4 separate regions of the Homo sapiens genome follow, and all the other regions are linked to region 4. The links come from fine-mapping of genetic effects on gene expression. A gene starts in region 4. Each other region holds a variant in brackets. All regions are shown on one strand. Distances are between the middles of the regions. Region 1 overlaps PTPRA (protein tyrosine phosphatase receptor type A). Region 2 overlaps PTPRA (protein tyrosine phosphatase receptor type A). Region 3 overlaps PTPRA (protein tyrosine phosphatase receptor type A). Region 4 holds the start of VPS16 (VPS16 core subunit of CORVET and HOPS complexes).

Evidence for each region.
Region 1: its variant is fine-mapped to the expression of VPS16 in whole blood (TOPMed, PIP above 0.99).
Region 2: its variant is fine-mapped to the expression of VPS16 in whole blood (TOPMed, PIP above 0.99).
Region 3: its variant is fine-mapped to the expression of VPS16 in breast (GTEx, PIP 0.94).

What each region holds. Positions count from the first base shown.
Region 1 is chr20:3,028,200-3,036,305 of GRCh38, reverse strand. PTPRA (protein tyrosine phosphatase receptor type A) reads right to left here. Exons shown (of 24, transcript NM_001385305.1): 21 at 596-721; 22 at 365-516. Among named protein-coding and RNA genes, the nearest start is that of GNRH2, 11 kb to the left of the region's middle. The variant G/A (reference allele first, on the strand shown) is at 4,395.
Region 2 is chr20:2,886,165-2,894,270 of GRCh38, reverse strand. All of the region lies in intron 1 of PTPRA (protein tyrosine phosphatase receptor type A), which reads right to left. Among named protein-coding and RNA genes, the nearest start is that of PTPRA, 17 kb to the right of the region's middle. The variant C/T (reference allele first, on the strand shown) is at 4,024.
Region 3 is chr20:2,954,872-2,962,977 of GRCh38, reverse strand. The region is part of intron 3 of PTPRA (protein tyrosine phosphatase receptor type A); the gene reads right to left. Among named protein-coding and RNA genes, the nearest start is that of GNRH2, 85 kb to the left of the region's middle. RefSeq lists an enhancer at 7,493-7,552. The variant C/G (reference allele first, on the strand shown) is at 3,346.
Region 4 is chr20:2,836,380-2,844,466 of GRCh38, reverse strand. It overlaps VPS16 (VPS16 core subunit of CORVET and HOPS complexes), which reads right to left and starts at 3,722. Exons shown (of 24, transcript NM_022575.4): 1 at 3,640-3,722. The coding sequence starts at 3,692. It overlaps PCED1A (PC-esterase domain containing 1A), which reads left to right and starts at 3,812. Exons shown (of 8, transcript NM_022760.6): 1 at 3,812-4,256; 2 at 4,534-4,678; 3 at 5,196-5,275; 4 at 5,385-5,623; 5 at 5,721-5,871; 6 at 5,989-6,235. The coding sequence starts at 4,555. RefSeq lists enhancers at 2,914-3,445, 3,979-4,510, 5,987-6,286.

The DNA of each region.
Region 1 (8,106 bases), 190 kb before region 4:
CCTCTTTACTGTCTCTCTTCTGCTGGTCACACCAACCCAGGCTCAAACCTGGGAGACACCCTTGACTCCTCTTCTCTTTCACCCTCTGTTCATAGCACAACCGGGGTCTCCACTGCCAGTCTCCCCTGCTGCTCTCCTGCCCACTATCTGAACATTAGTCCCCTAGCACTTATTGTGCCAAGTTCAAGCTCCAAGGTCCTCTCTCTTAGCATCCAATCCTGTCTTGGCATCAATCTCAACTACTATGTGCTCACCAATATCTTGCTCTTGTATGGCTTTCTTCAGTCTGACCCATGGTCATCAGCTTCCCCTATCTGCCCCTCCTCGCTTTCTCTCTCCCGCTGAGGGCAAGGGTGAGCCATACCTGCAGTGCACGGTGATGGGGTGGTTCCCTGACTGCTGCTGCTGCTTCTGCACGGCGGCGATGATGCTGATCATGCCCTTTCCGTCACTGGGGATGCCCACTTCAGGCCAGCCATGGAAGTGGAACTGCCGGATCTGCCGGCTCTTATTCTCCTTTGGAAAAAAGGGGATCAGGGAGGCAGGGGTAACCCTGCTTTTCCTGTGGGCAGAGTCCACCCACGACCCATCTTACCCTGGTGTTGGTGACCAGGAGGTCTCGGACGGTGTAGCTCTCACATTCCTCCTCCTTCTTCAGTTCCACTGTAATATCTCCATAGGACACCAGTCCATCAGATGGCCAGTACTGGGCACACTTCTCCTGGAGAGACAGGTTGGAGAGGTGAGGAGCTCAGAGTACCACATGTGTAGAAGCAGCACTGCCCACGAGCAGCCTGACCCCTCTCAGTACAGCCACCTCTTACGCTGATACGCTTCGTCCCCAAGGTATTGAAAACTTGCAGGATCATTATATCACATCATTCCAATTAACCTCCGATCCTCACCAGAGACCATCTAAAACACTGCCGGGGTCTGTAAAGGACTCTGACTACAGGCTCACAGGGTATCCAATACTTGGTGGCTGCAGGGAGAGGAGGACGAGTGAAAATCTTTGTTCCAATTCCTTTCTTTTTCTCCCATGGGGTGTTTTCATATTTAATGCTGCTTACATCCGCCAGACTGCTAATTCAGAAAATCAGAACCAATTCACATTCCCACACAGCCATGGGCTTCACCACCGCCCAGGCCACAGTATCCTTTCTCCCTTTTACCTTTATCTCTTTGATCTGCAAGGTACCTTCAAGTTGCTAGCACTCGCCTTTCTGTCCTTGCTAGTGAGCAGGAGGTGGTCTACTGTCTGTCTTTGCTTGCACCTGGCTCACTTCCCTCTACAGCTCCTTGTGGGAGTGGCTGCGTCTCTTTTCATCTCTGTATTCCCCACACCTTGCACAATGCCTGGCACATGGTAGGCTCTCAGTATCTGGTAAATGAATTTGTTCAATGTCTGCAGAACAAGCCAAGGCATAAATACATAAATATAACATCACACAGTTATGCTGCCCATTTCTTTAGAGAATTTGGGGGTAAGATCTGAGATTCTTCACTACTGGCAATTGAAAAATTCTCAACCATACATATAATGTCATTGAAAGATTTGGAAAAAAATTAAGTAGAAAAAGAAATTGTGAATAGTCTCACAGTCCAAATAAAATCATGATTATTAAAGTGTTGAATCAAGAACATGCCCTGGACTAGTGCTTTTCCACCCATGTTCTCTAGAAGCCCTGGGGATGCCTCAGGGATCGGTGCCCTGGGCCTCTCTTCAACCAGAACAGCCAAAAAAAAAAAAAAATTCTCATTAAGGCTCACCTCGATCAGGCATTATATTAGTTTTTATGGCACTGGTGGGTGGAATGGATTTTGCTACCACAGTGCCTTCTCAACACTGCTTTACACAGTGTCTCAGCTGGGATGAAGACTGGGCCTTTAAAACCATCAGAACCATAAGGTCCCCATGGGTGTGAGCCACAGTGTGTGTGTGCTGGAGGAATTGAGCATGATCTCTCAGACAGAAATACATATCAAGTCTAGGGACTAGGTATCAACACTAAGAGTCTCATTTTTTTTTTCTTTTTTGAGAGAGTCTTGCTCTGTCGCCCAGGCTGGAGTGCAGTGGCATGATCTTGACTTACTGCAGCCTCCGCCTCCCAGTTTCAAGTGATTCTCCCACCCCAGACTCCCAAGTAGCTGGGACTACAAGTGTGCGCCACCATGCCTAGCTAATTTTTGTATTTTTAGTAGAGACAGGGTTTCACCATGTCGGCCAGGCTGGTCTCAAACTCTTGACCTCAGGTGATCCACCTGCCTCAGCCTCCCAAAGTGGTAGGATTACACAGGCGTGAGCCACCACATCTGATCAAAAGTCTCTAAATTTTGTATACATGGGCGGATTTTCTCTCAAGATCTCTGGAAGACCAAAGAGGATTTTTTTTTTTTTTTTTTTTGAGATGGAGCTTCACTCTTATTGCCCACGCTGGAGTGCAATGGCGCGATCTTGGCTCACTGCAACCTCCGGCTCCCGGGTTCAAGTGATTCTCCTGCCTCAGCCTCCCCAGTAGCTGAGATTACAGGCATGCATCACCATGCCCGCTAATTTTGTATTTTTAGTAGAGACGGGGTTTCTCCATGTTGGTCAGGCTGGTCTCGAACTCCCGACCTCAGGTGATCCACCCGCCTCGGCCTCCCAAAGTGCTGGGATTACAGGCGTGAGCTGCCGCACCTGGCCTCAAACAGGATTTGTAAGACAAGGAGTGACAATGATTTATATTTTCAAAAGGACCAGCAGCTGCCATTTGAAAAACTAAAAGTGGGTTAGGATGAGAGCAGGAGGACCAGTTGCCAGGCCACTGCAGACGAGGCTGCGCATATGAGTCATGCCCACAGTCCCACGGGCAAGCAGTGAGAGACGAGGGCTTGTTCAGATGACAGCAGTTACGCTGGAGAAAAGTGGGGAGGCTCTGCCTGTATCAGGACTCAGTGGCAGACTGGATGTGAGGGGTGAGGAGAGGGGAGGAAGGAAGGTAACTCCCGGATTTTAGACATGAGCAACTGGGCAGAAGGTGGTACTATTTATTTAGATGGCTAAGAGTGGGGTGGACTGGTGTCGGGGGAAGGAGGAAATCAGGAGCCCACATTGGGAAGGGGGACAGGTGACTGGCCTAGAGACGCAGATTGAGGATCCCTGGCATATGGGTTGTACTTAAAGCCATAGGACTGGCTGAGATCCTGAAGGGCTAGTGTGTCAAAAGAAAACAGAGTGGGCTAGCGCCCGAGTCTAGTATACTCCAATGTTTTAGAGGAGGAGGTCACAAAGAAATAACAAAGGAGCTGCCAGGTTAGTGAGTGGGGTGATGCTACGGAAGTAAGTGTTCTGAGGAAGAGGAGGGAGGTACTGACTCTTTCAAATGCTGCTGTAAGGACAAAAAAAAAAAAATCAGAAAAGAGAAATGACCTTTGGATTTGGCAAGAGGACAGTCACTGGTGATCTTGACTAAAGCAGTCCCAGTGGGGCCAAGCCTGGAAGGAACAGAGCGAACAGAGAACTTGCAGGGAGAAAGCCAACTCTTTTTTTTTTTTTTTTGAGATGGAGTCTCACTCTGCCACCAGGCTGGAATGCAGTGGCGCGATCTTGGCTCATTGCAACCTTCAGCTCCCTGGTTCAAACGATTCTCCTGCCTCAGCCTCCCGAGTAGCTGGGATCACAGGCATGCACCATCGCGCCCAGCTAATTTTTGTATTTTTAGTAGAGATGGGGTTTTGCCATGTTGGCCAGGCTGGTCTCGATCTCCTGACTTTGTGATCCGCCCACCTTGGCCTCCCAAAGTGCTGGGATTACAGGCGTGAGCCACCGCGCCCGGCCGAAAGCCAACTCTTTAAAGGAGTTTTGCTGGGAAGGGGTGCAGAGAAATAGGATAGTAGGTGGAAGGGAAAGTGAGATTAGCAGATTTTTTGTTTTTAAAAGATAGGAAATGTAACATGTATAGGCTGATGAGAGTAGTGGTTAAAGAGGGGAACTGCTGATGGAGGTGGGAGAGAAGATGGTTATAGCAGCAACATCCCTGAGCAGGCAGGACGGAATGGGGCCAAGAGCACAGTGGACAGGTGGATTGAGAGATGCAGAAACCCTTTTCCACTGTAACAAGAGAGAATAGAGTTGGTACAGATTTGAAGAGGCTGGTTGTTTGGGGGTGGGAGGATGACAGTGTTCTTGTCTGATTTCTTGGAGAAGAATGAGGCCAGGTCACAAGCTAAGGTGTGAGTATGATGGGACAGGCAAGAGCAGATGCTGGAGGTTTCAGGAAGAAAAGAAAGAGCAATAGCATTGCTAGGTGGCACCAATTACCTCTATGAGATTTGTGGTCATGAGTTCAGTGTGAGAGCATTTGGCACTGTTTTGTGTTTTTGCCCAGTGATGTTTGCTATATCAGATAGAG[G/A]CATATAACTGGGTTTTACTAGAGAGTTTGCTATGAAAGTAAGAAAGCATGAGGGAATAAGGAAAGGTAATAATGACATACCACAAAAACTCAAATCAGAAAACTCAAACGCTCAAAAACAGAACTCAAAAACACACAGAGTAAGGAGGAAGGTGAGGACATGTTCGGTGTGACTGATGTTGAGAAAGTGGAGGCATCAATAACTCTAAGGACTTGATGAAGACAAAAATGACTGGAATAAAAGAGAATACTGAGGTGGGAGGAAGGAGGCAGTAAACAGGGCGGATGCCTTGTTGAGATTCCAAGGGCAGTGCAGATACAGGGCAGATGGTGACTTGACCATGGGATCAGGTGGCTGAGGAAGCTGAGGAATAGAAAGATTGAGGATAGATGGATCATCCACATGGTGACTGATGCCTCCAAAAGCAGAGTCAGGAACAGGGGCTCAAAAGGAGCAGTAAGCCAGGTGTTAAAGTCATCAGTGGGTGAGGGACAGAAGATGGGGAATGGGGATTCAAGACCAGTAGAAGAAAAGCTGGGGACTGGAGTTTCATCTCAGATTTGTGTGTTCACGTTACGGCCTCTAGATAATAGCATCTTAAAGAAGTGAAACAGGGAAGGTTTTCTGTCTTTTCTCCTACTTTGTCTTTCCACCAGATAGCATGAAGTCTCTTATGTCTTATGTCTCTTATGAGGTCTAAGGCGGACATGGTGATGGGGACACACAGCTTTGTGAAGACTAATGCTATCAGGTTTCACTATGCTTTAGAGAAGCAGGATGAGGCCTAGGGTTGGGCTAGGCCTAGGGTTGACCCAGCATGGGAGTTCCTGGCACTGCTCTGTCTGCCCAGGCTGATGATGGTCCAAGCTGCAGCTGCTGAGGGAACCCAGGCATCCTGGTGGACCCTTTTGATTAAAATAGAGCAGAAGGAGGCCAGGCGCAATGGCTCATGCCTGTAATCTTAGCACTCTGGGAGGCTAAGGCGGGCGGATCACTTGGGGTCAGGAGTTTGAGACCAGCATGGCCAACATGACGAAACCCTGTCTCTACTATGGAAATTAGCTGGGCATGGTAGTGCATGCCTGTAATCCCAGCTACTCGGGAGGCTGAGGTGGGAGAATCACTTGAACCCTGGAGGTGGAGGTTGCAGCGAGCTGAGATTGTGCCACTGCACTCCAGTCTGGTGGACAGAGTGAGACTCCATCTCAAAAAAAAAAAAAAAAAAAAAAAAAAAGCAGAGGGAGATAATTAAAAATTTTTAATTCCTTCGAGATTTTAATTTGTAAGTACAGAATTTATATTATGGGATCGAATTTTTTTCTCTGGGAACTTAATATTGTAGGTGAGGATGGTAGTGTCACTGTATAAGTGTAGGCACCTTTCATTGCATCATTTAGGCTTAGTGCGTTAATTACTTCTGGGAGCTACACTTGACAACATGAATGGAACAGAAAGTGAACTTGGGGGCCAGTGAGGCCTTGTAAAGAACATCACTAACATCCTGTTCCAATCCACTCAGAAGCTTTTGAGGGCAAGCACTACTGTCTGCTTCACTGGCCTAGGAAGACAGAGCATAAGCTACAGTGGAAGGCAGAGGGAGAGGCCTCACTCAACAGGCAGCAGAATTTGTGTGCGCACGACTCTTCTCCCCACCGCCACACACATGAAATGCTTCCTGCCCCCTGCCCTTTACTCTCACTAGGTCCTTTTCAAGGATGGAAGAGCCTGCATCTGACTGGACAGAGGCGGAGATGTTCACTGGGCCACATTTTATCACAGGGCAGTGGGCCGAGATGGTCCTTGTGCTCGTGGTTCCAGCTCTTCGGCCTGCTCTTTGGTCCTGCCCATCACAGATCTGAAGGGCAGGGGTGCAGAAGGAACCACAGGTAGGGCCCTGGTCTGATCTGCAGGTTCCATCACGACTGATCAGAGACGGCAGGAACAGGCACCTAGCTCCTGAGAACACAGTGGCTCATTTCCTAAACAGCTTTTGTTACTCAGGTGTGTGCTTCCTTGAGTGCAAAGCCAAGCACCTTAACCGAACCTCCCACCTCATCAGTATTGTTATTAATGATGATGAAGACACTGGGCGCAGTGGCTCACGCCTGTAATCCCAGCACTTTGGGAGGCTGAGTCAGGCAGATAACCTGAGGTCAGGAGTTTGAGACAAGCCTGGCCAACATGGTGAAACCCCGTGCCTACAAAAATTAGCCAGGCATGATGGTGGGTGTCTTTAATCCCAGTTACTAGGGAGGCTGTGGCAGGAGAATTGCCAGAACCTGGGAGGCAGAGGTTGCAATGAGCCCATATTGTGCCACTGCACTCCAGCCTGGGTGACAGAGACTCCGTCTCAAAAAAAAAAAAAAAAAAGATGATGAAGACCTACAAAGTATGTCTGTTGATTAGGTACATGATACAAGTCTAGGAAGAATAGCTAATGAGTTAAATGACTGATCAAAATTGAAAAAAATGCCGGGCAAGGTGGTTCAAACCTGTAATCCTAGCACTTTGGGTCAACCAGGTGGGTGGATCAATTGAGCCCAGGAGTTCAAGACCAGCCTGGGCAACATGGTGAAACCCTGTCTCTACAAAAAAATACAAAAACTAGCTGGGCATGGTGGCACGTGCCTTTAGTCCTAGCTACTTGGAGGGCTATGTGGGAGGATCACTTGAACCTGGGAGGTTGAGGCTGCAGTGAGCCAAGATCGTGCCACTGCACTCCAGCCTGGGTGACAAAGTGAGACCCTCTCTCAAACAAACAAACAAACAAACAAAACCAAAAAAAAAAAAAAAATCCTGATGTAATGAAACATCAGGGTGAGAAAATATGTGTAAAGCCTTGTACCAAAGTTAACACAAGTACAGATGGGGAACAACTAGTGACTTGAGACAACTAATGTAAAACATACTTTGTATTTTAAATGTTTGACTATAAATTCAATGAGTCATGAGTGGGTGCCATCCTTAATTCCTCCTCACTTCACCCTTTCTGGGACAGCACCCTCTCACCACCCGAGTCCAGGCCACCAGCATTACTGCCACAGCTTTCGCATTTCTAATGAGTCCTTCTCACTGCTGCCAGAGGGATTTTTTAAAAAACACAAATGGGATGTTGTCAAGGGCTCTTCAATTGCTTTAGGAAGACCAAACTCTTCACTGTGGCTTAGAAGGAATTTTCTCACCAGGCCTTGCTAGCTTCTCTCCAGGCCCATTCTCTAGATTCTCATCCCTGCTAAGTGACACCCCAGACATAGTGAACCGCTCATTTGCTGCAATGTGCAACCTCAACAGAAATAATTTTTAAAAGAATAAGCATTGTCAGAACACAGACTGGGTCCCCCCATAATGTGGGGGGTGAGGGAGATATCCCTGAGATTGAATGTGCTTAGTAGAGGCTGTATGATTCTGACTCAGGAACAATATTAGGAGGTTTCCTATACTGAGAGGAAGTTGACCTAGGGGACTGCTAGTGTCCCTTTTTAGTATGAGTTTCCGGACAGCTCTGCTTTTTAATAGACCTGAGGGCTTTTTTCTTTAAAAGATTTCCTTATTACTGAATATTAGACTGTAAGTTTCTTGTTTGTATAATTTCTCAAATTCTACTGCTTTATTTTATGTAGTCAGCAATGAGGCAATCCCTTCTTAGGGACACTCATATTGGGTCCACCTCAGAACCTTGACCTATCTGCCCTGCCTGGGGCACTGGGAAGG
Region 2 (8,106 bases), 50 kb before region 4:
TTGAGGGCATTATAGAGGCTGAAAGTTTCTGGTTTTAATGTATTCTCCAGTTTTAAAATCGAAAAGAAAATCTGCAAAACTGGAAGACAAACACTGAACCAAACATTTCTGTATCAATAAACCTCATATAAAATTATTCTGCTGTTTGATTATATAACTATTATGTTCTATGGCAACCTACTGATGAAATACGGGAATACCAAAAATAATTAACTACTTTTTTCCATGTCATTATCTCCACCATATTAAAAAAAACTTTCTTGAAAAAGATGCTATTGTTATTTTAATTACTCACATGAGACTATTTCAAATTCTTAACTTTAGTTCTAGTAGAATGCTTATATATTTAATATCTGGTATAAATATTAATTATATAGTATAGTCTACTGTATATATATATATCAAAATCTTTGTAGGCAATATATCTGCAAGAAATAAGACACATCTAGAATAGACACACGTAATCTTCAAAAGCAGTGTGTACCATGCTTTTACATACTCTTTGGTCACTGGGTTAGAAGGTCATGTGCCAAGAAGGAAATGGTTCTGGGCTGTCCTTCAAAAGGCAGAGTGAAAGATTTCCCAAGTAACATGAAGATTTTCATGAGCCATGGATAAGCAACAATAAATAACCAGCTGACAATAAAAACAGATCCATATACCATTTTGGGGATGAAAATATAGCTAAGGATTAAATGTGATTAAATATATGATATATATGATATACCATATATACATGATGTATCATATAGCTACATAATATATTAAGTACAGCTAAGATTAAATATTTCTAATCTAAACTGTCATCTAAATGTAAGAAATCTCCAGCTGTCTTAAATGTCCAGTTGATGTGCATAACTCCATCTGCCAGCTATGCTATCTGAGGGACACATGGTATTCTTGCTGGAGTCATGTAGTTGATTATACTTTATACTCAGGTCATGTCGTCTCATTTAAAGGGAATACCAGTTCACTCTACAAAGCTATCAACTGTAATCCATAAGTGTAAGATCTTTAGTATGGTTCTATTGGAGTAAATCTCTCATTCCTACTACAAACCAGGCACTGCATTAGCAGCTGGAGATATAAAACTGCAAAACAAACAAGTCCCATAAATCCCTGCCCTCAAAGAGCACCCAGTTTAATTGAGAAACAAACTAATACAACTTTGACATTCAAAGAAATGTTCACAAAAACCAAACCTTTCAAGAGCCGTTGGATACCATTATGATTTATTATACAGAATACAATTAAGACAGAATTGACAGTGAAATTCCTTCAAATCTTCATAAATGTATAAAAACAGAATTAATGCTGGCTTCCTTCTGAATACCATTTTTCACACAGAAAGTCTTAATCCCTTCAGGAGAGCTGTGGCCTATCTAAAGCAGAAAATAAAGACAGAATTAGATGCTAAGTGAGGCTTGGCTCACTGAACAGCTAAACCGAACTTAGTTCTGCTGCCACTAAACTCAACTGGGTAAATAAAGATGCTCCTTGCCCTACAATGGGGCTATATTCCAATATACCCACCATAAACTGAAAATATCGTTTAAGTAGGAAATGCATTTAACACACTTTACCTACCGAATGCCATAGTTAGCCTAGCCTACCTTAAATGTGTTCAGAACACTCACATTAGCATACAGTTGAGCAGAATCACCTGGCAACACAGTACACCATGGAGTATACTCATTTACCCTCCTGATCACATGGCTGACTGGGAGGTGTGGGTCAATGCTTCTGCCCAGCACCATGAGAAATTGTCACACTGCATATCACTAGCCTGGGAAAAGATCAAATTTCAAAATTGGAAGTACAATTTCTACTGAATACGTATATCACACCAGCTTTCCCACCATCATAGTATAAAAATCATAAGTTGAACCATCATAAATCAGGGACCATCTATAATGTGAATCCATGCTTCAGTAAATTACATACAGTTGGCCCTCTCTTCTTTTTTTTTTTTTTTTTTTTTGAGACAGAGTCTCATTCTGTTGCCCAGGCTGGAGTGCTATGGCAGGATCTTGGCTCACTGCAACCTTCAACTCCCAGGTTCAAGCAATTGTCCTGCCTCAGCCTCCAGAGTAGCTAGGATTACAGGCACCTGCCACCATGCCTGGCTAATTTTTGTATTTTTAGTAGAGACACGGTTTCACCATATTGGCCAGGCTGGTCTCGAGCTCCTAACCTCAGGCAATCCTCCCACCCCAGCCTCCCAAAGTGCTGGGATTACGGGTGTGAGCCACCGCGCCCGGCCCAGTTGACCCTCTCTATCTGTGGGTTGCACATCCACAGATCAAAAAAATAAACAAATAAAACCATAAAATAAGAAACAAACTTAAAAATACAGTATAACAGCTATTTACATAGTATTTGCATTGTTTTAGCCATATAGGTAATCTGGAGATTATTTAGGGCCTATAAAGTACACAGGAGGATGTGCATAGGTTACATGCAAATATGCCATTTTATATAAGGCACCTGAGTATCCCTGGATTTTGATCTCCATGGGGGGGATCCTGGAATCAATCACCTGAAGATACTAAGAGACAACTGCATTACTATACCTTTTGGACTATCAGGATCCTTCTGAGACTATAAATGTTTAATCTACACATGCCAATGTGTGAATTATCATATAAGTGTATGAATTATCATACAATAAGTGACTTGACAGATATAAGCACAGAATCTACACTGGGTCAGACTTGGAGTAGTCAGTAAGGAAATGCTGACTGGAGGAGCTGATCTCTATCTGATAAATTATAATGTCAAGTAAGAAGGAGGGAGGTGGGCAGTCCAACCAAAGACAGAGAGCAAGAAAGAGCACAGCACCACCAAGGATCAAGCGGCAGTGGGCTCAGAGAAAAGATAAGGCTACCAACGTTAAGAGGAGTTGGATCATGAGGGCCTGCTCTGTTAAGGAGTTTGGATTTTATTCACAGAATCTAAAGTTGGGAAGTTAAAGAGATCACTTTTGGCAGCCATCTAATCAATGACTTGGAATGAGAAACTAATAATGAGTAGACAACAAGGGAACCTGCAGCAGTCATCTAGGTGAGAAGCAGCCTGAATTAAGGGATAGGAGAAATGGTGGAAAATAGGCAAATTTGAGAAATGTTACAGATGTAAAACAGTTAGGAACAGATCACCAACCAGATGAACAACATTCAAGTTTCCAGTTTGGGTCACTGTGTTGTGCCATTCATCAAGATAGAGATTATAAAAATAACACGCTGAAAAGGAAGATGAGTCAGTTCTGAGACTGTTATAGGTACCTGGGAGATAGCCCAATGGAGACCAGTAGGCTGTTGGCTGTAATCCAGATGGGTTCTGAGGACAAAGTTTCTCCTAATTAGCAAGGAAGCTGAAACCATGGACATGTGCTTCCAGGAAGAACGTGTAGAATCAACACAAGAAGGCCAGAGATGGAATCTTTGGTAACTCAAACAAGGAGTGGTCAAAGAAGAGGGGCCTAGGGAACTGAGGAGTGGCCACAAAGATAGAAAGAGGAAAACAAGGAGAATGTGTCACATAACTCAGGGAAAGATAGTTCAGGGAATAAAGACTGTAAAGTTGATCACATTTACTCAGCTTTTTTCTCTCTTCCCTCTCCCATCCTTTACACACTCTCCCCTGTTAAAATCAGAAAGGTAAAAAGTTATTCTGTGATAATTCAAATAATGCTACACTGTGCCCCAAATCAACTACTAGGGAGGGAAGACAGAGAATCAAGATCATTATATTTTCTAACATTTATTAAAGATTTACTATGTGCTAAGAACTGTGCTAAGCATTTACCACGCACTATCTAATGCTTAAAACAAACAAATACATAGAGTACTACAGCTGAACCCATTTACTAGGTGACAAAAGTGAGTCTCAGAAGAGCTAACTATTTTGCCCAAGTTCACAAAAAGCATGGCAGGCATGGAATATGAACCCTAGTCTATCCAACACCCAAAATTAAAATAACTGTAGGGCCTGACAAGGAATATATAAAAGAAACACAAAATC[C/T]AATTTGACCAGGAAAAAAAAAATTGATTGAAGGGTTATTTTTGAAGAAAAGGCCAGGCATGGTGGCTTATGCCTGTAATCCCAGCACTTGGGCAGGCTGAGGCGGGAGGACTGTTTGAGGCCAGGAATTTGAGATCATCCTAGGCTCATAGTGAGGCCTCATCTCTACAAAAAAAAAAAAAAAATCAAAAAATTAGCTGGGCATGATGACGTACATCTGTGGTCCCAGCTACTTACTCAGGAGGCTGAGGCGGGAGGATCACTTGAGCCCAGGAGGTCAAGGCTGCAGTGAGCCATGATTGCACCACTGCACACCAGCATGGGCAACCTACCAAGATCCTGTCTCAAAAAAAGGTATGGGGGGTTGCAAAACAAACTCTGAACATGGATTCCCCCTTTGATGCCACATTCAGGACTCTTAACATAAGGAAAGGCACAGCATCTCTTGAGTAGAATTATCCTGGAAACACAGACCCCTTAGTTCCCTTTCCCAGTCTCAAATCTCTGACCAATAATAACTGTATCATGATTCTGTATTTTTAATCTGATAACCATGGCTTTCTGAGATGATAAAACTGTCCTCCTTAATTGGGTAAGTGGCATCACAATCCCAGAAAGAAAAGACATGAGCAATAAAATGAGGTATGGTATATCAAACTCATGGTACTAGTAGTACTTTTGCGTTAAGTTTAGGGTATGTGTTTTTTAAATGTTGGTAATTCAGATTCAGCTAATGAAAAGCACTGGAAGTCTTAACCAAAACCTGTTTTACTACATTTACAAATTTAATTTCTTAGTATCACAGATTGCCCAAGAGCTTAAGAAGTTTCTGTTTAAGGTGGTAACTCTGACCTGTCAAGGACTGACTGTGCCTGACAGACTGACTGTGTAAATGTATTTTAAACATCTAAGGAAATTTAATTCACTAAGTAAGGGGCCTGGAGCAATTAAATCTGTTAAATTTATATTAACTTAATTGACAAGCAGGTGAAAATTACTATTCTTATTTCTATACAAAATGCCTATGCTTACAAGTACAATAACAAGACTAAAAGAAAACTGGGTTTTAAATTTACCACTTTAATACATGTTAATTTAAAGCCCAAATAATTTTAAAATAGTCCTTCTGTATACAAAAGCCCTTTTCCCACATCAAAAAACTTACACATGTAACTGAGCTGCTCTATTAACCACTACTTGCTCAACAAAAGCCCTCTTCAAAGTAGAACCTTTGAAAACTTACCAAGTACAACTGGATAAGTATGGATGGTTTAAGTAATCTCTCCCACTAACATTGGGGAAACCGAATTGAGCTCCACTTAAGATCCCACCCAAAGGTAAGAACATCTCATCTCAATCTGCTATAACATTCACCCCTTTTGATAAACATAAAACTCTCCTATCTTCCCTTATTGTTACTTGAAATACCAAACTTAAGTAACTTACATTTTATGAGCATGTAGTATTTCAGCATGGTTTCACAAGTATTGCTCATAGTACTTGTGGATGCCTATGGAAAGGGAAAGCTGAAAGGCAGGGGGAGAGAAAACTACCTTTTACTATATATACTATATATACTTTTAGAACTATTAACATGGACACATATTATTCAAATATATACATAATTTTAAATTAAGCAAAATTTTGAGACAAACACTAACAAACCTTTTTTTTTTTTAAATGCTTTTTCTTTTTGAGACAGGGGTCTCACTCTGCTGCCCAGGCTGGAGTGCTGTGGTATGTTCACTGCAGCCTTGATCTCCTGGGCTTAAGCAATCCTCCCACCTCAGCCTCCCAAGTAGCTAGGACTATGGGTGCATGCCATTACACCTGGCTAGCTTTTATTTTTCTGTAGAAGCAGGGTCTCACTATGTTGCCCAGGCTGGTCTCGAACTCCTGGGCTCAAGTGATCCTCCCATGTTGGCCTCCGAAAGTGCTAGGATTACAGGTGTGAGCCACCACACCTAGCCTGAAAATGCATTTTCAAACTTACGTCTTCCCCACCATGTCAGTCATATTGAGAATCACTGATTTAGGGGTTCACAACTGCTGCTGATGGCACTACTGCTCACTGGGCATGAAATACAGGAAGAAAAGGGGTTTTCTTTGTCTTCCACCAGCTGGTAGCAAGAACCTAGCCCAGGTATAGTCTCCCTGAGCTTCTTCTATTTCTCATCCGTGTTTGAGGGCTTTGAGGGACCATTCTAGCTAACACCCCAAACTGGGGAGAGAGAAATACTGGCTGGAAATCACTGTGAAATCTGTCCCTGTTAACAAAGTGGGCAGGCCCAAGAGGTAAGAGGCACTGGAAGGCAGTGATCTCACAGACAGCGTGAGCAGAGGCACTGAGTCAGGGACATTCACATCACTGGGGACATGGGAACCAGGAGAGCAGAAGTATCCCCGTAAAAGCTTGGGCCTCCAGTTCCTTTTAGACAGTGAAAGTCCTGGAACTATCCCACACTGCTCTGGTAACAGTGCTGCTAACATTATCAAAGGAAGACATTCTCTTTACTAATGGTAGTATCAATGCATTTACAATATTGTAATAAGCCACTTGTCAACCAATATTTGAAAATTAGTTGCTCGTTAAGCTATTTGTCAATCAATATTTAAGAACTACTTGCACAATTCACAGGGGCCAGGTTTCAACTTCTTCCCACACACAAAAGCTCAGTTCATTAACTAGCAATCATCTCTTCCAAAAAGCCAGAAATCTAGAACCCTAATGCCTCTACTGCTTAAATCATACTTGTCCATGTATCTCCATCCCTATCACCACTCCTCCCACCCTAAGCCAATCCAGAACACCATCATCACTGGCCACATTTGCTCTAATAAACATCAAATAAGTCTCTATACCCTGCCCAGTCCGTTCTCCACAAACAAACCTTTTACTGCACATCCACCAATAAATAAGAGTATACATCCCCAACACATGTTCATTTATAAACAGAACACAGGTACTAATACCTATAAATACTACAAAACATTTCAAATGAAATACATAATGATCACAATAATGGTACTTCCATCAATTAAAATAGTAATGTAAAACCCATCTTAAAAATATTTTAGTGCAATCCATATGATTAAATATTTCTCATTATGTTTGAAAAATCTCATTTTAATATATTATAGAGCAATTTAAAAGCCTGATTCCAAGTTTTAATGCTATCATAACCAAAAAGAAACATGAATCCAAAGGAAGAAGCACTATGGCTGTGTTTACTAAACTGTGATAATCATTTTTTCACCCCCATTATACAAATATTTCCTTTTAAATATGGCTAGCAAATATCTATCTTCTGTGATATACTTTTGAAAATTAATCAAAGATACTACATTTTTTTATTTCTTTTTCTTTTTTTTCTTTTCCTTTTTTTTTTTTGAGACAGAGTTTCACTCTTGTTGCCCAGGCTGGAGTACAATGGTGCGATCTCGGCTCAGGGCAACCTCCACCTCCCAGGTTAAAGCAAGTCTCCTGCCTCAGCCTCCCGAGTAGCTGGGATTACAGGTATGCACCACCATGCCAGGCTAATTTTGTATTTTTTTTTTTTTTTTAGTAGAGACGGGGGTTTCTCCATGTTGGTCAGGCTGGTCTCGAACTCCCAACCTCAGGTGATCCGCCCGCCTCGGCCTCCCAAAGTGCTGGGATTACAGGTGTGAGTCACCGTGCCTGGCCACATTTTTCTATTTCTAACAAATGGACATGAAATCCACTAAAACTCTTCCCTTACAGTGGTTTCTCTTTTAATTTTTTACTATGGGAATTCTCAAACATATACAACAGTAGAGAAAATACTATAATAAACCCTTATATACCTATTATCCAGCTTCAATAATTATCAACGTATGGCAATTCTTGTCTCGTCTGTAATCCTCCAAACATGCTGAATTATTTTAAAGCAAATTCCAGATATCAACATCATTTCATCCAAAATACTTCAGTACCTATCTGTAAGAGAAAGGAGTCTTTCTTTTTAATGTAACCATACTACTATAATAACCTTTAAAAAATTAAAATTGTTTAAAAATCATCTAATATACAAGTGGTTTTCAAATTTAAATTACTCCCAATGG
Region 3 (8,106 bases), 120 kb before region 4:
CTTCACAGGACTCACAGTCTAAAGTGTTCAATGTGGTAGTGACTCTCCAAGGGAAGTAGGACACACATCCTTAAGGGACACATGAAAATCTCAAGGGTAGGGGGGGAAGAGAAGGAGATGTAGGTGGTTCATATATACTCCAGGAGTTTGCCCCTGGTACCAGCAGCCGTGCCTAGCAGGGAAATGGGTTCAGCAGTGGCCTTCAGGTGCATCCACAGAAGATTTTGACAATTTCCCCATTCTTCCTAGGCTGTGATCATTAAACCAGTGATATACTGTTAGATTTTCATAAAACTTACATTTTATAACTCTGTTTGGATAGTGAATTAACATGGATCTCTGGCAGAACCCAGCTCAATTACTACCTGAGCCTAATCCAAAATTGGAAACTCATACAATTTCCTTCACAAGGGTCAAACAACAAGTGGAAGGCTGACTATTATATATGTATATGTATACATGTCTATTCTTGATAAATTAATAGAAAATGGTTTTGGGAAAAATAACTACATATTTGAGAGGAGGGAGTTAGACCACCACCTCATTCCATATACCAAAATAAATTCCACATAGGTTTAAAAATTAAATGCTTGAAAACACATTTTAAAAGAAAATAAATGAATATGTGAGCTCAGGATGAGGAAAAACTTTCTAAGCATAAAAGGCAATTAAGAAATCATAAAGGTAGAAGTGGAATATCTGACAGAAAAAACAAAAGCTCCTAAACATAAAGAAGAAGCCCATCATAAATAATGTTTATGGACAGGAAGACTCAATATTGTCAAGATGTCAGTTATTCCCAAATAAGCCTATAGATTCAATGCAATCTCAATCATAATCTCAGCAAGTTATTTTGTGAATATAAAAATGCTGATTCTAAAGTTTACATGGAGAGACATTAAGATTCTGAAGGGGCAACTCAATATTAAAGAAGAGTCAAAGATTAATGCTATTGGACTTCAAGACTTACTTTAAAGCTATGGTAATTAAGACTGTGGTATTAGCAAAAGAAAAGGCAAACAGATCAATGGAACGGAACAGAGATCATAAACAGACCCACATAAATATAGTCAACTGACAAAGGAGCAAAGGCAATAAAATGGAGCAAGATAGTCTTTTCAACAAATGATACTGGAAAGGGACAGCTACATATAGAAAAATTAATCCATATCAGACCTTATTATCTTTCACAAAAATTTAACTAAAAATGAATCATAGACCTAAATATCAATCATAAGACTATAAAATGCCAAGAAGATAACAGGAGAAAATCTAGATGACTTTGGGTATGGCGAGAACTTTTTAGATATAACATCAAAGGCATGATCCATGAGAACATAATTGATAGTCTGGACTTCATTAAAATATAAAATGTCTACTCTGTGAAAGACAATGCCAAGAGAATCAGAGGATAAGCCACAGACTAGGAGAAAATATTTGCAAAAGATAGATCTGACAAAGGACAGAGAATTCTTAAACTCAACAAGAAAAATAACAACCAGATTAAAAATGGGCAAAAGACCTGAAGAGACACCTCACCAAAGAAGATAAACAGTACGGCAAATAAGCATCTGAAAAGACACAGAACATCAAGTCATTAGGTAATTGCAAATTAAAACGGGATACCACTACACATCTATGAAAATGGATTTTGGTTTTAAAATCCAAAACATTTGACAATACTACATGTTTGTAAGAATATGGAGCAGCAGGAACTCTCATTCACTGCTGGTGGGAATGCAAAATGGTACATCCACTTTGGAAGGCAGCTTGGTAGTCTCTCAAAAAAATAAATAAGCTCTTACCATATGATCCAGCAATTGTGCTCCTTGGTATTTAACCAAATGAGATGAAAACTTATGCCACTTAAAAAAAACCTGCACATGGATGTTTACAGCAACTTTATTTATAATTGCCACGACTGGGAGCAATCAAGATATCCTTCAGCAGGCGAATGGATAAATAAGTGATGGCACATCCAGACAATGAAATATTACTCACTGCTAAAAAGAAATAAGCTAAAAACATGAAAATACGTAGAAGAAACTTAAACATATATTACTAAGTGACAGAAGCCAATGTGAAAAACCATGGAGACAGTAAAAGATCACTGGTTAAAAAAAAAAAAAGAAAATAAAAAAGGCCAGGTGCGGTGACTCATGCCTGTAATCCCAACACCTTGAGAGGCCAAGGCAGGCAAATTGCTTGAGCTCAGGAGTTCAAGACCAGCCTGGACAACACAGCAAGACCACATTTCTATAAAAAATACAAAACTTAGCTGGGCATGGTGGTGTGTGTGTGTAGTCTCAGCTATTTAGGAGGCTGAGGTGGGAGGATCACTTGAGCCTGGGAGGTCGACGCTTCAGTGAGGAGTGATCATCACTGCACTCAGGCCTGGGTGACAGAGCAAGACCTTGTTTTTTAAAAAAAAGGTAGGGCGTGGTGGCTCATGCCTGTAATCCCAGCTTTGGGAGGCCGAGGTGGGCGGATCACGAGGTCAGGAGATCGAGACCATCCTGGCTAACATGGTGAAACCCCGTCTCTACTACAAATACAAAAAATTAGCCGGATGTGGTGGCGGGCACCTGTAGTCCCAGCTACTCGGGAGGCTGAGGCAGGAGAATGGCATGAACCCGGGAGGTGGAGCTTGCAGTGACCCAAGATGGCGCCACTGCACTCCGGCCTGGGGGACAGAGTGAGACTCCGTCTCAAAAAAAAAAAAAAAAAATCAGTGGTTGTGCAGTTAGGAAAAGGGAGAGAGGAGTAAGCAGGTGGAGCAGAGGACTGTCAGGGCAGTCAAATTCTTCTGTATGATACTACAATGGTAGACACATGTCATTATACATTTGTCCAAATCTACAGAATGTACAACACCAAAGCTTGGGTGATAATGAGGAGTCAATGTTGGTCCATCAATTGCAACAAAGGTACCACAGTGGTGTAGGATGTGGATAATGAGGAGGCTGTGCAGGTGTTGGGGACAGGTGGTATTTAGGAATGCTCTATATTTTCTTTCTTTCTTTTTTTAGGACGGAGTCTCACTCTGTTGCCCAGGCTGGAGTGCAGGGGCATGACTGTGGCTCACTGTAACCTCCACCTCCCAGGTTCAAGAGATTCTTCTGCCTCAGCCTCCTGAGTAGGTACAGTTACAGGTGTGCACCACCACACCCAGCTAATTTGTGTATTGTTAGTAGACATGGGGTTTCATCATATTGGCCAGGCTGGTCTTAAACTCCTGACCTTGTGATCTGCCCACCTTGGCCTTCCAAAGTGCTGGGATTACAGGTGTGAGCCACCGCGCCTGGCCGGAACTCTCCATACTTTTTGATCAATTTTGCTGTGAAC[C/G]TGAAACTCTCTAAAACACAAAGTCTATTTTAATTTTTATTTTTTCTTATTTCTCTAAGAAAAAAAAAGTCTATTTTAAAAAAGAAAATGAACTGTCATAAATAATTGAAACAAGAACTCATAACAATACTGAAAACATAACAGTCCAATTTTGAAAAATCTGAAGGACCTAAACAGATAATTTACAGACGAGAAAAACGAACAGCTAAGAAAATACACAAAGAAGTGTTGACTGTCCCCACTAATCAAATGAATATAATGAGATTACATTTTTATTTTCCAAATCAGAAGAGATCAATCATATGAAATATCCAGTGGTTAAATACTGGTGGGAGTAACAATTAGCCTACAATAAAAATTCCTTTCCAGAAAGGTAATACAAGAACAAGGGAAAAGAACAAATGCATGGTGATGGAAGCTGTGGAGAGAATTGGTATGCGTACACTAGGGAGGAAAAGACACATCAGAAGTTAAGAAGATCCATGTCACTAACAGGTACTATATCCATAGACCACGACCAGGAAAATCACAGTGAAAACCTCATCCGTCTCCGAGAAAGACTTTGAGGCAAACTCCTGTGACTTCCCGACCCCCCATATACAATGCATTTGCAACAACACTATCCTTACTTCTCTCTCTGGTTTCCAAATTTCTACTCCAACATCTCAGAGCTCCATTTCAGGAAGTAGGGTTGAGGTCCTCCTCACTCCTCAAGAATGCCATATGCAAAGCATTTCTCCTGGAGCCTGCTCTAACAGTCCCTGTTCTTTTTTTTTTTTTTTTTTTTTGATACAGTCTCGCTCTGTTGCCCAGGCTGGAGTACAGTGGTGTGATCTAGGCTCACTGCCACCTCCGCCTCCTAGGTTCAAGCAATTCTCCTGCCTCAGCCTCCCAAGTAGCTGGGATTACAGGCGCGTGCCACCATGCCTGGCTAATTTTTGTATTTCTTTTTTTTTTTTTTTTTTTTTTTTTTTAGTAGAGATGGGGTTTCACCATGTTGGCCAGGCTGGTCTTGAACTCCTGACCTCAAGTGATCCACCCGCCTTGGCCTCCCAAAATGCTAGGATTATAGGTGTGAGCCACTGTACCCGGCTTAACAGTCCCTGTTCTTGAAAGCTTTTTGCCCTGTGCTTTCCTATCACTGAAGACACTGTAAGTGGCTCAGTTTCCTTCCTGTCCCCCAGGCCTGCTATTCTCCTGGATGACTTCAATATCCTCATGGATGACAACCAAAATCCCCATCTAGGCCAGCCTCTCAGTTCCTTGACTTCCTTCACTCCAACAACGCTTTATCTCTGCTACACTTGGGCCACTCACGACAATGGCTGTACTCCAGATGCTGTCATCACCCAGAAAAGCCCCCATACTGAATAAATCTTGCCTTCCCACTCTCCAACCACACTTTCTATCCTTGTAGTTCTCTCTGTTATGTCTACCACACCTGCTCTCTGACCTCACCCAGGCCTTCAGTCTCTTGAACCCCTCTCTAATTCTTTTCAATATCTCTGCTCTATCTTTATTTCCTTTTCTACCAAATCAAGAAAACTTGGTGTCAGTTCAATCATTCTTTTGTCCTAACTTCCTTCACTACACTGTTCTTCTTTTACACCAACATGGAAAGAAAAATCCCAAACTGTCAGCCCTATACTTGGACTGCCAGATGCTGCTTAAAAAAAAAAAAAAATCAAATAACTCATAAGGGTTGTATCACTACAAATCACTATTTCCGCTTCAGTGGAACCCTAAGCACTTTCTGCAGTCTTTCTGTCTTTCCTTAGCTCTCTCCAATTCTCCATAGCGGTGCCTTCAAACCTCCTCTCCCCTCTAACCATCTCCTCCCACACATGTGGCTGTTGGCCTTGCCTACCCTTCCAAGAAAATAAAAGCCATTGGACTAGACACCCTTAACTCCCCAGTCACTATATCCAGAAATTTTCCCCTTCCCTGAAATTCCATCCAGGAATCTCAGTCCTTTAGGAACCCTGCATTTTTTTCTACCACCATCTCTAGCTTTAACCCCTCCCTTTCATACCAGTTTTTAACACAATTAAGTTTTCAAAGAAGATGAAAAATTTCTTTGCATCTACATCAATCCTTCAGCTATCATTGTCTCTACTCTGCTTCATAGCCAAATCTCTAGAAAGAGTTGTCTCTCCATGGCAATCTGGCTTCTTGTTCCACCATTCCACTAAAACAGCTGCTTCCAGCCTAAAAGTAAAATGGGTAAACGATATGAAACATAACTCACAAAAAACCATACAGTTCTCTTAAATCTATGAAAAGATGCTCAACCTCACTGATGATCAAAGAAATCAATGCTGAGATACCATCTTTTTTTTTTATTATTTGAGACGGAGTCTCGCTCTGTCGCCCAGGCTCGAATGTTGTGGCGCGATCTCGGCTCAGTGCAAGCTCCGCCTCCCAGGTTCATGCCATTCTCCTGCCTCAGCCTTCCGAGTAGCTGGGACTACAGGTGCCCGCCACCACGCCTGGATAATTTTTTGTATTTTTAGTAGAGACAGGGTTTCACTGTGTTGGCCAGGATGGTCTCGATCTCCTGACCCCGTGATCTGCCCGCCTCAGCCTCCCAAAGTGCTGGGATTACAGGCGTGAGCCACTGCGCCTGGCTGAGATACCATTTTTTAATCTATCACACTGGCGAACATAAAAAACTTTGATAATGCTGCATTGGCAAGAGTTTGAGTAAACAGGTACTCTCATATAATCTATAAATATTCATCAGAATTACAAATGCACAACCCCTCTGACACAATTCCACTTCTGGAAACTTATTCCACGGATACATATCCATACTTTCAAAGTGACCCATGTACAAGGTTATTCAATGTAGCATTGTTTTCAAGAGAAGAATACTGGAAATACCCTTAACGTCTATCAATGGGGGAGAGAGACATGATTAAATAAATTATGGCTGATTTATTTATTTATTTATTTATTTATTTATTTATTTTTATTTACTGAGACAGGGTCTTGCTCTCTCACTCTGGTTGGAGTGCAGTGGGACAATCATTGAACTTGGAAGGATAAAGAGTAATTGGCCAAGACAAGGGTCAGACATAGTCTTTCAAACTGAGATGACTTGGAAGCTTGAAAAAGCCTGTCTGGTCCTGGCAACAAGAAAGACCTAGGTAAGGACATCACAGGGGGCTTCAATAAATATCTGCTAAATGAATGTAAAAATGGCAGACATGAAAGACTAGGGTGGGTGAGGAAAGGGTGGGGCGGGGAAATGCACACAATGAGGCTCGAGGAGGCAGCGATCATATCATGAAGGGGCCTGTACATTACAGTGAAAGTTTTAACTTACCACTGAACACACTGAAGAACTACCAAAGGTTTTATCACAGCAAGGTTAAATGGAACAATTTAGATTTTAGAAGCAATGACTGATGGCAGAGTGAAGGATCAACTGGTGGGGTTTGAAGTAAGGAGGGTCACTGACTGAAGCTTTCTGAAGTAATCTAGCCAATAAACCAGATGGATCTCACAGCAGGGCAGGAATATCTAAAGGAGACTGAGAAGAGGATTTATAGGGGTAGAATCGAAGGCTAATGAGATGTTGGAGGTAAGCAAGGCCCAGATGTCTAACTTCAGTGAACTGCAATGCTATAAGCTGGAGGATGACCAGTTTTGGGGAATGTGGTGGGGAAAGTGATGAGGTTAGTTTGAACATGGAGAATGTGTGGTATTAGAGTAGATGTTGTATCTGTGGGGGGTAGGGGGAAAAAAGACAGAATGGCAGACAGGCAATGACAGAGCAGCTGCCCTGGAAGTCAGGCAGAAAGCCAAAAAAAGGGAAGAAGACAGCTCTATGAGTGACAAAAGCAGCAATGAGCTAGCCAGGCAGCAGACATCTGAGAAACACAGTAGGCAGGAGTAGGTGGGTGCTGATGAGTAGAAAACTGATACATACCACCAGGGGAGGGTGGAGTAGGAACAGCACTCTGAAGAGTTGCCAGTGAGAGAAATCAGCTTGAAAAACTGGCAAGCTTCTGAAGAAGTCCTAGAACACCAGATATCAACTTTCATTATATGTCTTCTCTTGAGAAAGGCAATGTGATAGAGAAGTCCAAAACAAGAGAAGAGACCTTCCCCAACATTAGTGAAACTAAGGCACTGGAGAGCAGCTCACTTGCATAGACAACATTATATAGAGAATGAAACTAGACTACTAAGGCTGTGAAATAGATTCTTAACTTCTACTGCTTCTAAGTTCCACCTAAAACAAGATTCAGTTGGGGACCTTGAAAGAGATGAGTCTGGAGGCAAAAGAGTCAGTCAGATTACTACAATAAACAAATACACAAAATAGAATTTGGTATAGGTTTATATTGCAGATTAACACAAAGAACAATATGAAAATTTATTTGTTCTGCTTAAAGCACAACTTGGAACAAACTACTTGATACATGAAACCAAAGTATAGTACAGATTATCTGCATAAAGTAAAAAATAAAAACAAACCAGTGACAATTTTGAAAAAGAACAAAAAAAGGGGAGAAATCTATCTACTCAGTGTTAAGGCTTACTATATAGCTACCATATTTAAGACAGTATTAGCAGAGGAATAGACACATAGATCAATGGAGTAAAATATAGAACCAGTAACAGACTCACATAAATATGCCCAAATAAAAGTTGCAAAAGCAATTCAATGGACAGCCTTTTCATCAAATGGTACTCAGAAAACTGTATATCTACACGTGAAACAATAACGCTGGACCCCTCCCTTATACCACT
Region 4 (8,087 bases):
AGTTGCATTTTTAGGATTAAAAAAATAGCTTAACTTCTGGAGTCCCATAAGAACTGGTCACCGTTTCTCCTCCTTGCCTTCCCAAATTGAGTGGGTTCTCCAGAATACTACTCCCAATACAAAAGAATCCTGTCAGGCAGATAGGACTTGAAATGTAATGTCTGCCACCTGTTTTATCATTCATTCACTGACTCAGACATGTATCAAGTCCTGCCTATGCATAAAGCTATGCACACATATGAACAAAACTAAGTACTTGCTCTTAAAGCATTTCCATTCTGGTGGAAAAGGTGAAACATGCTCTTATATTTTCCTGTTAACCTGCCCGCCCCCAAAACCCTATTTTTTAACAGAGGTCTAGAACCTGTTTGGGTTCAAAGCCTGACTCCACTACTCAATAGCTGTGTAACCTGGTCACTAGTTGTATAACCTGGCCTCTCTGTGCCTCGGCTTCCTCATCAGTAAGATGGTACCTACCTCATGGGATTGTAAGGCTTAAGCAAGTTAAAACACATAAAGTACTTAGCATGTTTAGTACATAAGAAAGGCTCAATAGCTGTTAGCAACTTAAAACATAAATATCCTCCCCAGCAAGCCTTAGACCCCTAATCCTTTCTGGCAGTACAGCACAGGTAAGAGTAGATTAATCATTCAGATTGTGTCTGTGGCATGCACCCAACACATACATTCTTTTAAAACCTTATTAACATGTCAACAAAGCAAAGACTACATCTGACAAATAAGAGCTCTGTGGTAATGAGGTCAATGTCTGCAGTACTCTTTGATTTAATAAGCCTGGGTAGGCAACAGGTATCTTCAAAATAATACAAGTAAAGTTGATATTTTAAAAGTGAATGTTGTATCAACTAGCTGGTGTGTAAATACTAAATGACATGGCTACCTTGGTCAGCTGAAATTCCTTCTCCACAGAAACAAGTTGAAATCATTTCCTACTGCATTTATGGATTTTTAATGAAGTTTTTGCAATTTTTTCATACTGCACAGGCATATTTCTTTTCTTTTTTTTTTTTCCCCAAGATGGAGTCTTGCTCTGTTGCCCAGGCTGGAGTACAGTGGTGCGATCTTGGCTCACCGCAACCTCCGCCTCCCAGGTTCAAGCAATTCTCCTGCCTCAGCTTCCCGAGTAGCTGGGATTATAGGTGTGTGCCACCACGCCCGGCAAATTTTTGTATTTCTAGTAGAGACGGGGTTTCATCATGTTGGCCAGGCTGATCTCGAACTCTTGACCTCGTGATCTGCCTGCCTCAGCCTCCCAAAGTGCTGGGATTACAGGCGTGAGCCACCACGCTCGGCCAATTGCACAGGCATATTTCTAAGAGAGAATTATAAATAAACAACAAATGCAACAGGTCTCTAAAAACTGCCACAGGGCACTTGTCCATCTAGGAAGTATATCACATTAGGTACCAAAAATTACATTTAAAAGTTTTAATATGTCAGTGAGAATGGTATACAGTTTCATTAGCACAAACAAATGTCTTCTATTTAAGTAAGACCCCCATGCAATGTCTTTGTGATCTTTACTTGCAATCCATAACATATATCTATCTATCTATCGATAGATACATCTATCTATCTATCGATAGATACATCTATCTATCGATAGATACATCTATATGTCTATCTATAGATAGATACATCTATATGTCTATCTATAGATAGATACATCTATATGTCTATCTATAGATAGATACATCTATATGTATCTATAGATAGATACATCCATATGTCTATCTATATATAGATACATCTAGATGTATCTATATATATATAGATACATCTATATATCTATCTATATCTATCTATCTATAGATAGATATAGATAGATATATCTATATATAGACGGAGTCTCACTCTGTTGCCTGGACTAGAATGCAATGACGCTATCTTGGCTCACTGCAACCTCCGCCTCCCAGGTTCAAGCGATTCTCCTGCCTCAGCCTCCCAAGTAGCTGGGATTACAAGCACCTGCCATTATGCCTGGCTAATTTTTGTAGAGACAGGGTTTGACCATGTTGGTTAGGCTGGTCTCAAACTCCTGGCCTCAGGTGATTCACCCACCTTGGCCTCCCAAAGTGCTGGGATTACAGGCATGAGCCACTGCGCCTGGCCTAAAATAATATTTTTAATTTTTCAGAGGGAGTATGCTATGTTGCCCAGGCTGGAGTGCAGTGGTTATTCACAGGTTCTAACATCGGTCCCTACACCCTCAAACTTCTGGGCTCCAGTGATCCTCCTAACTCAGCCTCTCCAGTACCTGGGACTATAGGAACATGCCACAAAGCTCGGCCCAGTAAAATATTTTTAAAAAACTTTAATGGGCAATTATTACATAGCAAGCACTGTTCTAAATATGCACTGGTGATAAAGAGAAGCAAGAAACATGCTTTTGGCCGGGCTCAGTGGTTCACGCCTGTAATCCCAGTACTTTGGGAGGCCAAGGTGGATAGATTGCTTAAGGTCAGAAGTTCAAGACCAGCCTGGCCACCATGGTGAAACCTCACCTCTAGCAAAAAATACAAAAATTAGCCGGGCGTGGTGACAGGGGCCTGCAGTCTCAGCCACTCGGGAGGCTGAGGCAGGAGAATCCCTTGAACCCGGGAGGCGGAGGTTGCAGTGAGCCGAGTGCCCCTGCACTCCAGCCTGGGCAACAGAGGAAGACTCTGTCAAAAAAAAAAAAAATGCTTTCAGCCCTGAAGGAGCCTGGTTTAGCAGAAGAAACCTATACAAATGTCGCCTAAATATACAAATAGACCATACCTAAAAGACCCTAGCACTGGGCCCAGTGAGGCCCACAGGATTCTATTGGGGGAGAATCAGGCACAGTTCCAGAAAGAACCCTTGAACTACTAAGTCCTGAAGGATGCGCAAAATTCTTCAGTGAGATAAAGAGAGAAATGGCAGTATCCACAGAAACTGCAGACTGGTTAGGGCCTTGTAATTCTGCGCAGCTGGAACGCAAGATTTGGGTAGGAGAGCGGTAGATGAGGTTGGAGAGACAAACGGGCTGCCTTACAGATAGACGTTCCACGAGAAGTTCGTAGTTTTTCCTATTAGGGAAGCTATGGGAAAATCCTAATCTGGGTAACGATGTAACGGGTTTACACTTTAGAAAAATCCGTGGTTTAGGACTCTACAACTCCCATGGGCGGGCTGCCCTAACCCAGGGGTTCCCACTTCCGCTGTTCCGGGATTCACGGACGACTCGCCCCCTTTTCCCAGCCTTGGTCAGCACTGTTACCCCGCCCGCCGTGCGATCCCGCCCCCCTCGGAGCGCCCCTGTGGTCTGACTTCAGCAGCACTTTCCGGCAGGAGACTGGGCACTCGCTGTCACCCGCGAGCTGCCTCCCTCAGCGAGATCTGAGCATCTTTCCGGAGGCTAACAGACCTGGGCTTCGGGGTGACCACTGTGCTTGCCTCAGTTTCCTTTTCTGGAGCAGGGGAAGGCCCGGCTCCCTGCCCAAAGGCGGCTGTGCGCTAAGTGGCAGACGCTCGGGGAGAGCCGGCGCGGGGCGGACCCCAGCGCCAGTAGTGACAGGGGCGAACGCCGCCGGGAGACTCCAGCCGGCGGGCGAGCAGGGTAAGCCAGGCCGTGGGCGGGAGGGCGGGGCAGCTCACCGGTAAAAGGCAGAGTCCCCGAGTGGGTTCCAGTTCGCCGTGTAGCAGTCCATGGCTGGTGCAGACGGCAGCTGGGAAGCACCGAGGGGACACCCACCTAGAGCGGGCTCCAGGCCGGCACTTCCGCTTCCGCCCGTCCGGGTCACGTGGCGAGGCCGCCGCCGCGGCCATCACCACTGTGGGCAGCCTCACTTGGCTGCCGCCCCGAGACCCCAGCCCGTACCTGGGCTTCGCGCCCGCCAAGTGGGCCCAGCCCTGGCTCCTGCGCCCTGTGGCGGCCACCTCCATCGCCTTGCTTTCCCTTCGGGCACTGGGGGTCGCTCAGGGCGGGACATGGGTGAACGGAAGTGGAAGCTGTGAGCGTCGCAGCCCGAGGCGCCGAGGCCTGAGGCGCCGTCGGGGCCACAGCGACGCTCGCATGGAGAGCGCTGGGCGCTGGGCTGTGCACCGACGGCTAACCTGGACCCACGGTCTCTGCGGGGCGGGAGCTTTGCAGAACCGACTGGCCGACTGGGGCGCGGGAACATGAGGCTTGGCTAGGAGCCCGCTGCGGGCCAGGCGCGCGGTGCGCAGGCATACCCGGGTCGCGGGTGAACACCGCGGAGCCCCGGGACTTGGTAATTGGCGCGAGCGGGTGCGCGCATGCGCGGGACGGCGGCGGGCACGTGGCGAGGCGCAGGGCGGCGCCGCGCGGGAAGCTCCCCAGTGCCCTGGAGGCCTGCTGGCTGGACGACCCCCTGCCTCTGGTACCAAGTGTGACCAAGGCTGGCGCCACCATGGCTCTGCTGCCGTCACCTCCTCCCTTTAGCATTGAGCAGCCCCGGAGGGGCTAGCCCTGAGGCTGACCTGCCCAGAGTCCCCACCATCGCGCTGCTTAGTGGCCTCTCCCTGCAGCCTGTCGTTGCTGGTGGCGGCATGGTCTTCTGTCTGTCGAGCGAGGAGCCGCGCCGCCCGCTGCGAAGCGACATGGTCCACTTCCAGGCCTCGGAAGTCCAGCAGCTGCTACACAACAAGTTCGTGGTCATCTTGGGGGACTCCAGTGAGTGCCTCTTCTAGGGTGACGCTTCCAGTCCCACACCTTGCAGCCCGTTCAGTGTGTCTGGACCATTTGTTTCCATCTCACATCTCTTGTCTGTCTTCTGGTCTGTTCCGTCCAGTAGGTTTTCTCTTTTTATGTCCCACACATCTTCCACAGGAGTCCTGACAGGTGTAATAACCTGTGCACTTTTTAGCCCATCCTTGCTCAGCATTTCTCGCCCTGACAGCTCCCCATAATTTCCATCACGAAAGCGTTGCATTGTGTAGTGTGTCTCCTGGGTGACTTGGCCGACTTAATTTCTGCCAGGTGATCTTGGGTCACTGTATACTGCTGGCCAGGAGGCACACAGAACAGAGGCAATGCCAGGACTTTTTAACCTCATCTTTTCTCCTGCGTCTAAGTCAACCACAGAGCTGGTGTCGGGCACCTCAGCCCTGGGAAAATGGGGTCCTGGACTTGGAAGGAGCTGGGGCAGGCTGAGGTCTGCCTCAGCCTTGGGATCTCTGTCTCCTCCCAGTTCAGAGGGCTGTGTACAAGGACCTGGTGCTCTTGCTCCAGAAAGACTCACTGCTCACAGCTGCCCAGCTGAAAGCCAAGGTGAGGGAAGCTTGGTGGCCATGTCAGTGGTGGGTGGGCACAGACCCTGGCCTGGCAGGGTTCTCCTCCCTGGCATGGGTCTGACCAGTAGGGTGGGGGGGGTGGGTAGGGGGAGCTGAGCTTTGAACAGGACCAGCTGGTGGCTGGGGGCCAGCTGGGCGAGCTGCACAACGGGACACAGTATCGTGAGGTCCGCCAGTTCTGCTCGGGCTCTGGCCACCACCTTGTGCGCTTCTACTTCCTCACTCGTGTTTACTCCGAGTACCTTGAGGATGTTCTGGAAGAGCTGACATATGGACCTGCCCCGGACCTGGTGATCATCAACTCCTGCCTCTGGGATCTCTCCAGGTTGGGGCGAGGGAAAGGGGAATACTGGTTGGGGCTGGAAGTACGGCTGAGGCAGTCCACCCTTGTGCTCTTGCCCACCCTGTGTGTTATCCAACAGATATGGTCGCTGCTCAATGGAGAGCTACCGGGAGAACCTGGAGCGGGTGTTTGTGCGCATGGACCAAGTATTGCCAGACTCCTGCCTGCTGGTGTGGAACATGGCGATGCCCCTCGGGGAACGTATCACTGGGGGTTTCCTCCTGCCAGAGGCAAGTGACTGAGGCCCATCAGGACAAGAGATGGGATAGCAGACTGGTAGATAGGACACCCTGCTTTCAGACCCTGCTGCGTTCTGTGGCTCTTAGAGGCTGCACTTTCTCACTTAGCTCCAGCCCCTGGCAGGCTCCCTGCGGCGGGATGTGGTTGAAGGGAACTTCTACAGTGCTACGCTGGCCGGGGACCACTGCTTTGATGTCCTAGACCTCCACTTTCACTTCCGGCATGCAGTACAGCACCGTCATCGGGATGGTGTCCACTGGGACCAGCATGCACACCGCCACCTCTCACACCTGCTTCTGACCCATGTGGCTGACGCCTGGGGCGTGGAGCTGCCCAAGCGTGGCTATCCCCCTGGTGAGCCCTACCATAAGTGGGGGGGTAGTGATGCACTGGGGCCCTCAGAGGACAGGGCTCAGAAACAGAATGGGACACAGCCACTCAAGGGAAGTAGAGGTCCCTTGAAGGACTCCTGTGGCTTCTGCATGCACCTTCCTCAACCCCTGAGGAGGGTTAGATCATCGGAGCAATATTCTTGTCCAAGTTCCAGTTTTCTACAGTCTGGCTGTGTAGTCATTTCTGTGTGCTTGAAGGAGCTTGTACAAGTATTGACCACATAAGGCAGCATGTTGCAAGGGTCCTACCCAACAGATTAACAGGAAAGAAATGGGGCATGGGTGTGAGGAGTGGAAAGACAGGGAGGAAGGGCCATCCAGGCAGTGTGGCAGAAGCAAAGAAGCCCACAGCTGGGGGGTGGGGGTACAGTCAACTGGCAGGGTGTGGAACAGGGATGTTGCATCGGGAAGGCCAGCCTTATGGACTTGGGCTCAATGGACAGTGTTCCATAGGCTTCTTAGTTCAGCCTCAGAGTCCCACTGTGACTGGTGCAGCTTGGTGTAGCTCTCCTCGGGCCCCATCTCTGGGCCTTTGGTGGAGGCTTCTGAGGGCCCCACTCCCCCTTGTTTTGAGGCACTGCTCCCCATCACATCTCAACTGTAACACTCTGCTGCAGAACCTCTGTTTCCATGTCAACACCCTAGTCCCTGCATGCACACAAAGAGGGCACCATGGCTGATTGTCTCCATGGCTGCTTCTCCCCTGCATCGTGTCCTTAAAGGGCAAGTTTCCTGCTGCACTTGTTGACGACTCACCCCTTTCAGCCCCAGTGTCTAGCACAATTTCCCTGTACACAGTATCAACAGAATTGTATTTGTTGAATGGGAGGCACGAGTCATGTTAGAAGGCCGATTATGGCAGCACAAGAGGATGTGGGGGCACAGAGAGTCCAGGAATATCATAGAGACAGACCTGTAACACTTGGTAGCCAGGAGTTGGAGCATCAGGGAGGTGAATACAGATTTTGGTTAAACATCCCCATTTTCTTGTTTAGATGTAATAATTGATCCCCAGCAAATGATGGGATGCCCTGAAGGTTGTAAGGCTAGTTTTGATGGCTTAGGCCTTTGAAATCCAATTTGGAGCTACAGAAGTTAGGGCCATGAAAAGGGAGAGTTGATTTGGGGTGGAAGGATGAGTTGGTGAGTTTGGTCACAGCAGATTGATTTGAGGTTCTTTGGAAATACAGAGTAGATTTGCAGTCATTGGTACCCAGCAGAGAGATTAAAACTGAGGGCACAGTGGCAGCTGTGAGGGAGACAGAACGATGCTCATGCTTTGGATTGGCAGGAAAGAGGGGCTATGGCGGAAACAAAAGGAGATGAGGGCAGGGGCACTTTTAGGAAGGACTGAGGCTGCTGGCAGTGTCACATGACTGTTGAGAAGAAGGGAATTTGTTAGCAAGTGGTTACATTTAGTAGGAAAAGTGTTGAGGGCATGGGTTTGGATTAAAGGAGGGAGTGAGCAATTGAGGAGGAAGTGGAAATTGGGCAAAACATTCCTTTTGGAAGTTTGGATGGTAAAAGGAAGTTGTTGGGGAAGGGAATAACAGGATCTTTATGTTTGGCTTATTTACTGGTCTATGGGGAGGAGGTGGGCGAGGAAAAAGCTAGATACAAGACCTGGGCAAACAAAGAAGGCTCTGGAGGGAAGTGTAGGTTAGAACAAAGGTAAGTCTGAGAGGTAAGAGAGAAGGAACACACTTTGGGCTTGGCCTGAAATGAGAGGGAATGAGGAAAACTGGGTAGAGGGCAAGGATGCTCCAGCCTGGTGGCTCTGCTCTCCAAGAGGAAGGAATAGAGCTTTAGAAGTG